Linked DNA regions of Homo sapiens. The protein of the gene in region 2 interacts with the protein of the main gene of each other region in a pairwise test. Each region holds a gene or a part of one and is shown on either strand. Other genes may lie near its edges.

The links.
Region 1: the proteins of ANKS1A (region 2) and C9orf152 interact in a two-hybrid assay, tested with the Homo sapiens proteins (one large-scale study listed by BioGRID).

Annotation. Positions count from the first base shown.
Region 1 is NC_000009.12:110,204,737-110,209,836, forward strand, and holds the start of C9orf152 (uncharacterized protein C9orf152), read right to left. Parts: upstream 3,424-5,100; 5' UTR 2,844-3,423; coding exon 2,651-2,843; intron 1-2,650.
Region 2 is NC_000006.12:34,892,255-34,895,754, forward strand, and holds part of ANKS1A (ankyrin repeat and SAM domain-containing protein 1A), read left to right. Parts: intron 1-3,500. UniProt on the Homo sapiens protein: Regulator of different signaling pathways. Regulates EPHA8 receptor tyrosine kinase signaling to control cell migration and neurite retraction.

The DNA of each region.
Region 1 (5,100 bases), on a different chromosome or scaffold from region 2:
CTCTATAAGCATTAAACAATAACGCCCCACTTCCCCATGCCCCAGCCTCTGGCAACCACCATTCTGCTTTCCTTCTGTCTCTTTAAATATGACTACTCTACATACCTCATGTAAATGGGATTATACAGTATTTGTCTTTTTGGGACTGACTGACTTCACTCAGCATAATGTCCTCAAGTTTTATCCATGTTGTAGTGTATGGCAGAATTTCTTTCCTTTTTATGGCTGAATGATATGCCTGTCCTCAAATTTTGACTGCTCTCTCCATCTTCCCTGGCTTCATTTCCTCCTCTTGTTCCTTAAATATTTGAGTATTCCAGAACTCTAATTTTCATCCCAGTTTCTTATCAATTTACACATGGATTTGCCACAGTTTTATCCATGCCCATGGCTTCAGCTACCATCTATAGATGAATAACCCCAAATCTAGCTCTCCAGCCCAAATGAGATCCAGGCTGGATGGAAGGTCTACAGGCAACTATCTCCAATGCAGTATATTCAAAAACAAGTTCATCTCTCTCTACAAAAAGCCTTTTTCTCCACAAAAAGCCTTTTTCTCCTGTATTCTCAAGGAAAGATACCACCATCTATCCTGTTGCTAAAGTATAGGGGACAATTAATTGCTCTTTTGCCTCCTTAGTGCCATTTTCACCTTATTTTTGTCACCTTACTCTGATTTCTCCCTGGATAATTACCTACTCCTTCACATTCAGTGCTAGTGTTTCAAGTGGCCTTCCTACTTAGATACATGTGACATACGTGATCTTGTCCTCAGCCAGTCAGTGCATAAGGCCTTGATGAGCTTTATACATATTAGTTCATTTTATTCCTACAATAACCCTATGATTTGGGTACTACAGTTATTCCCAATTGACAGGTGAGGAAACTGAGCCCCAGAAAATTTATGTAACTTGTTTAAAGCTGCATATTAAGTAAATGGCAGAGCTGGGACTCAAACTCAGGCTGTGCTCCAAGACCCAGTACATGACCACTCCATTACACAGTATGCTGCCTCTCACAGTTAGATAAAGAATGTGGAACTCAGCCAAGTATGGTGGTTCACGCCCAGCACTTTTGAAGGTCGAGGTGGGTGGATCACCTGAGGTCAGGAGTTCAAGAGCAGCCTGGCCAACATGGTGAAACCCCATCTCTACTAAAAAAAATACAAAAATTAACCGAGCATGGTGGCAGGTGCCTGTAATCCAGCTACTCAGGAGGCTGAGGCAGGGAGAATTGCCTGAACCCGGGAGGCAGAGGTTTCAGTGAGCCGAGATTGCACCCCACTGCACTCCAGCCTGGGCAACAGAGTGAGAATCTGTCTCAAAAAAAAAAAAATGTGGAACTGCAAACTGCTGAAAGTGCCCTGAATGACCCTGACCTAGCTGGGAGGTCAGAAGTCTTCTCGGAGAAAGCCACACCTGGGCACTCCTTGCATGAACCATAATTTAGCACCTAGTAATGATGGGAAAGGGGGTACCGAGTTACCAAGAGCAGGAGAAAGGACGAGCACAGGGTATAGTGAATTCTCTGGGGGCATGTTGAATTTGAGATGTCTTTGGATCATCCCCACTAAGCAATTAGATTTGTGAGTCTGAATTGCAGGTGTATTAAGCATTGTGTTTCCATTTGATAGGGATTTAAATTGATAAATGTTTGTTGAATAACTGAATGAATAAATACCCTCAAGGGTGGGATAGAGCTTTAGGAACCTTTCAGTTTATGCCCTGCAGAGATGGTGACTGTTTGGCTGTGCCAGTTCACTCCTGCCAGGAACGAGGATTCCATTGGTTGGCAACAGCCCAGGTAATGGGAGATGGGCTCCTTCAGCTCAGAGGTGCCACTTTTGTTCCCAAAAGGCAGCACACTTCCTGCCCTAGACAGAGAGGTCCCTCTGGCCCCTGATTCCTGCCCAGTCTGGCCTGGCAAAGGGCAGCCCAAAGAGTCTACTGAACTCTACAAATAACCACAGAATCCCACAGAGCCCAGCTTTGACCTTTCAGGGTATCTTCCCTTCTCCCTCAACCTGTTCCTCTGTTAGAGGAGGAAGGGCTGGGATTTGACATGCCCTTGCTTTCTGAGCCCTGTGCCTCTAACTCCCTCCTGGAATGAAATCTGAGTTCCTAAAGGGAGGAGGTTTCTCCCCATGAGGGGGTTTCTGTGTCCAATCACACCTCCCTGCCTGATGTTTGAGGCTGGATGAGCCTGGGATGCCTCATGGGTCTCTGAGCCCTAGGCGTCCTCTGGCCCAGACAGTTCCCAGGCTGTTGGGAACGCCATGTCTTCTACCTCCAGAGTGAATTTCTCTGGTTTGTAGGAGGTGCCTTAGTTAGACCCAGCCAGGAAGCAGAGCTCCTATCGCCATACCTGGGCTAGCAGGGGGGCCAAGCCTGGCTCACCAGGCTGACCAGTCTAGCAAGATTAGAACATCAGAGCAGAGGCCAGGAACAGTGCTGGCAGCCAGGTGCTTGGCTGAGGCCCCTGGCTCCCTTAGCAGGTGGGACAGCTGAGCAGAGCTGCCCTGAGCCCGCCTCCCCTGCTCTTCCCCACTGGGAGGGAGGGCTGGCAAAGCCCTGGCTCTGCCTCCCTGCAGCTCTGCCACTCAGGTCTCCCATGGTAAGTCTCTCCTTCCCCAGCACCTGTCCATTCCTACCTTTTGGAAGCACCAGGAGGTGGGCCTGGGTCCTCTGCTGCCTCTTCAAGCCTTCATACTGGGCTCGCAGGAACTGGATGCTGAGTGGGGGCCCTTTCCCAGGGGCCTGAGTCCTGGAGCCCTCAGCCATTAAGTGAGACCTAAGCTGCCAGAAGTGGGGCAGGGCTGGGCACGGGCAGGGCAACCCCTCCATCCGGATCCGGGAGAAAAGCAAACACAGCTGGGTGGGGCAGGACCTGGGGAGGGGAGAGAGAGGGAGGGGGCAGTGAGGGAGAAGGAGAAGTGACGGGCAAAAGGAGGGTGGAAAGAGGAGTGGGACTGAGGAAGGAGATAGAAAAATAAGGGGGAAGGAGAAAGATGAAGGGGAAGAGGAGGTAGGGATAGGGAGAAATGTGGGGGAGGAGAAAGGTGGGAGACAGTGGCAGTAAGAGGAGAAGGAAATGTCAGAGGAAAGAAGGGGCAGCGAAGGGGGAAAGACTGGAGGAAGGAGGTGATAGTGACAAGCGGGGATTAATGGGGCGAGAGAAGAAAGAGAGGGAGGAAGATGGAGACAGGCAGGAGGAGGCAGGGAAAGGAGTGATGGGGAGTGGGAGACCGAGAAGTAAGGGGAGGACTGGGGGAGCAAAGAGAAAGGCAAGCCCAGCTGCTCAGAGCCCTTCAGGGGGGTCAAGAAGGTGTCTTATTCCAGGTCCTTCCATTGCTTGATCCTAAAGTTTAGAATCCAATTCCCAGTGCCACGGTGAAGTCTCCCCTTTCCTGGCAGAGCTGGGACTGGGGCTGGGGAGTGCTAAGCTCGCGCTCTGCTCACACATTTTGGACTGGAACGTGGCCACTTTTCAGCAAACCTGCCGGTTGGGTTTGCAGTAGTTCAAAGAACACCCTCGGGAGCTTCACAAGGTCGGTGCCTCTGGATGTGTGCCCCGCGGCCACACCCTAAAGAAACCCAGTAGCAAAGATCTCCCCAAGATCTCCACTCAGACCCCAACACACACCCCAGGTGAAAATTCAGCCCTAAAGTCAGCCATGGGACAGAGCCCAGGGGAATCTTGGCCTCGGGCCAGCCCTACCCCTTGGACATTTGGTGCAGCCTCTGCCGTCTCAGCATTCTCCAACCAAGTGGTAAGTTAGGCATCCCCTCACTCTCTGCTTGCCAGCCTCAACATTTCCACATTGCTTTTGAATCCCAGACCCTCTCCCTCTTACACCAGCTTTGACCTAGCCTTGCTGCATTTGGTCAACTAAGTCCCTTTCTATCTTCTCCTATCACGGTGCTTACTGATTACCCAATTACCCAATATGTCTACAGAGGCAATGGAAACAGAGTAGAGCCTGAACCTACAAGACATTTTGGACATTAACCAGACAAGATCTAGTCATTTGATGTGGGGGAGCCGTGGAAGATGGAGAGCAAATCTTCACTGGGTAGTATATGTTAGTTTTGCTAGGGCTGCCATAACGAAATCCCACAAACTGGATGTCTTAAACAACAAACATTATTGTCTCAGAGTTCTGGAGGTTAGAAGTCCAAAGTCAAGGTGTGAGCAGGGTTGGTTTCTTCTTGGAGCTGTGTGAGAGTATCTGTTCCATGCCTCTCACCTTGCTTCTGATGGTTTGCTAGCAATCTCTGGTATTCTTTGGCTTGCAAAAACATTGCCTAATCTCTGCCTTTATCTTGACATGATGTTCTTCCTTTTTATTTTTTTATTTTATTTTTTTTTTGAGAGGGAGTCTCACTCTGTCGCCCAGGCTGGAGTGCAGTGGCGTAATCTCAGCTCACTGCAAGCTCTGCCTCCCGGGTTCGCATCATTCTCCTGCCTCAGCCTCCCGAGTAGCTGGGACTACAGGCACCCGCCACCGCGCCCAGCTAATTTTTTGTATTTTTCGTAGAGACAGGGTTTCACCGTGGTCTCGATCTCCTGACCTTGTGATCCGCCCGCCTTGGCCTCCCAAAGTGCTGGGATTACAGGCGTGAGCCACCACACCCGGCCTAATATGATGTTCTTCCTATGTGGGTGTCTCTGTGCCCAATTTTCCCCTTTTTATAAGTACAGCAATCACATTGGATTAGAGCTCAATCTGTCTCAAAAAAATACCGAGAGAGATAGCCAAAGCTTCCTCATACCTTTTTATCGGTAGATCACTCTATCATGAAGGCAAGAGCAACCCATCCATGCTGGACCAGCTGCACCTGCCATGAAATCATGGCAGTAGACATCATGGCAGTAGGCTGGCCACAATGGCTCACAACTGTAATCCCAGCACTTTGGGAGGCTGAGGTGGGTGTATTGATTGTGCCCTGGAGTTCAGGACCAGCCTGGGCAACATAGTGAAACTCTGTATCTACAAAAATTAGCCAGGCATGGTGGCACATGCCTGTAGTCCGAGCTACTCGGGTGGCTGAGGTGGGATGATCACTTGAACCCAGAAGCTCGAGGCTGAAATGAGCCATG
Region 2 (3,500 bases):
CTCTGGTTAAAGCTAGTAAAAGATTTCTGAGCAAATGAGACCATGCCTAGGTCAGTATGTCCTCCCTTTTTAGATGTGGACATAGTGAAGGGTAGGTTACCTCTGCTCCCAACCCTCTCTCCCCTAAAGACCCTGGATTATTTAATGAGAGCTGTGGAATCATAGCTTCAGATTTGGCCTTTGTATTAGCGGCCATATTCTACCCCTATTTGTACTGCCAACTGTAACTTGCCTGAAGTAAAGCTGGCAGAAATAGGAGCTTACAGTTGCAGTGGAATAATTGTTCCAGACCACACATGTGTTTGTGTATTCACCTGTTTGTGTTCCCCCATCCCGTATTCCACAAAGGCTTTGTGTTTATTCTTAAGCTAAAAAATGCCCTCTTCTCTTACCCATCCCTTTTCCTCTACACAGCTTGGGCTTAGGTTTTAACTTCTTAAAGCCCTTCCTGATGACCCTAATACACACAGATCTCTCAAGCTTCCATGTCTTTGGAGCACGTCATCTGTAGTGTACTTTGCTTGCCTAGCTTTCACAGTTGATCGCTTTGGCCTGTCAGTATAATGTTTACATATAGCAACCCTCACCGATTGATGCTATACCTGAGAATCAGAAAGTCAGCAAAGAAGACTTCTACTAGAAAAACATGTTGTTACAAACTTTGTGTTCTTCTAGCCTTCCTTATTTACTGGATATTTATTCAGGAACAGTATAGCATTATACTGTCCACTTTTTCTTAGCATTAAGCATGTTATAGCATTAAGACCACTTGTTTTTGTGTCAGACTTCCTGGATTCACATTCCACTGCCACCACTGACTAGCTGCTTGACATTATTCAAGTTAACCACTTTGATACTCAATTTCTGCATCTGTAAAATGGGGATAATACTATCTGCCTTATAGGTATCATCTTAGATAATGTGTGTACGGGACTTACCATAATTCCTGGCATATTCTAAGTCCTCAGTCTTAGTCATCCTCAGTTCAGCACATACGGTTTTGCTGTGTTGCACCTGTTCTGTGCAAAGTACCATGCCAGACACATTATTTATTTTTATTTTTGTAGAGATCGTGTCCCACTATGTTGCCCAGGCTAGTCTCAAACTCCTGGGCTCAAACGATCTTCCTGCCTCAGCCTCCCAAAGTGCTGGGATTATAGGTGTGAGCCACAGTGCCCTGCCTGACACATTTTAAATGGTGTTTTTTCATGCTTGGGGATCTGTTTTCCAAGCATGGCAGACTAGAAAGAGTAAATAAGGGAGAGGAATCATTCATATACCCAATGTTTACCCATGATATACTTTGTGCCAGGCCAAGTGATTGCTAGATGCACTGCAAAATATGTCTGAGACCTGGGACATTGTACGTGGTCTGTCAGAATTAGCCCCTCTCTTCATACATGTTCTGTTCCCTTACAGAGTTTATAGTAGTATGATACGTCTGTGTAACAGGCCAACAAAAAGGAGACAGAGAAAGCACACAAATTTAGCATAATTTATCCTACCTCCCGGCTGTTTGAAGCTATTAACATAGGTGTATATAGCCCTATATACCTATGTAAGCCCCAAGCATCAGTTTACTGTATCTTTGTGCTATGATTTATGTTTATTATGACTGTTAGCCATCAAATAAAGATTAAATTATGTTCAATATAGCTTGTTAGTGAAAGAAGAAAAAAAATATAGTTTTCTATCCAAAATGGTTTAAATATAATTTTTTTACTTAAAAGGATAAGCAATAGATTATCTAGAAAGCACAGTTATCCAGAATGTCTAGGCTTACAGAGGCTCTGGATTGCATGGATTATACTTTATATAATACTAACTCATTTTCTGATTGTTTAATGGATGCATGCCTTCGGTCTATACCTTGGGAGCTTGGGATAGGCATTCTATCAAACTTCTTAACTTACAGTATTTTTTAGTTCTGGGCACGTAGCGGGCACTCAGATTCTCATGTAACAAGACAGTTTGCTATGTTTAGAGTTATAGTGAAATACTGATTTCCAAGAAAGAAACTCCTGTATAAGAATATTGTAAGATTTGGTTAAAAGTAAATTCTATCAACTAAAAGGCCAAAAAGATCTGAGAAAAGGAAATGTTAAAACCAATCATGGCCAGGCACAGTGGCTCACCTCTGTAATACCAACACTTTGGGAGGCTGAGGCAGCTGGATCACTTGAGCCCAGGAGTTTGAAACCAGCCTGGGCAACATGCTGAAATCCCATCTCTACGAAAAATACAAACATTAGCCAGGCGTGATGGTGTGCACCTGTAGTCCCAGCTACTCGGGAGGCTGATGTGGGAGGATTGCTTGAGTCTGGGAGGTTGAGGCTGCAGTGAGCCAAGATTGTTCCACTGCATTTCAGCCTGGGTGACAGAGCTAGACCACGTCCTCACACCACCACCCCCCAAAAAAAGAAGAAAAAAGAAAACCAGCCACAATAGCTTCAAACTGTAAATTGAGTTATGAACTAAATACTGATGTATATGAATGGAAAAGTAAAGTGAAATGTACTTCTTAGGGTTCAGAAGCACAGAGAAACTAAACCGAAGATCACAGTTGAGGAGATTATGTTATGGTTTAGGAATATTTTATGCTTAATTTCTCAAGCATGAGAAGGGTGAATAAGAAAAGAGGAAGCCAAGGAGACTTGCTGGAGAATCTGAAAATTTATAGATAGTAGCAATGAATGTGGCTTTAAACTAATTTTTATGCTGCCATTTCATTGGGGGAATAAAAGAAAAAGAAAACTATTCCAAAACAGATATGAATTTCCCAAGATGTGAAAATGTTCTGAAATAAGGAATGAAGCATGAAAAATTTTGAAAAATGGACCTCATTTGGAGGATAATAACAGATTCTCCCAAATGTCAGAAAATATGGCAAGTAATTCATTGTTGTAAAGAAAGCTTCCTAATATTTATTTAAGGACTTTGGTTTTTTTTTTTTTTTAATTAAAAAAAAAAATTTAAGAGACAGGAGTCTTGCTAATGTTGTCCAGGCTGACCTTAAACTCCTGGGCTCAATTGATCCTCCTGCCTCATCCTCCTGAGCTATTGGGACTGCAGGCACATGCCACCATGCCAGGCTAGACTTCTTCCTCTTGTTAGTGTTATTATTTTTTAAACAGTGATTAGCATAACCATTCTATTGAAATGGTCCTTTATTCATTCCCAGAATGGATCTGAACCTTGGAGATTATAATGGCGTGACAGCCTTTTCTCATGCTGACCTTTTTACTTTTGCCCACTACTGTGCCAGATTTCTTTTGAAAGTGCCTATTTTGAGCAAAATGATTTTAACATCTTAAGGAAGAGGGCAACACTGACCATGTAAGGATTGTAGAATGGAAGGGCCTGGAAACAGATCTTGTGGATTTGAATTTGTCTGATCTAAGTTCCTGCTCTTCTAAGAGAATGCAAAAACAAGATAAAATGCAACTATCCACTAGCATAGCAGTTTTCTGGGTCTTCCACTAAACTATCTTAATTAATTA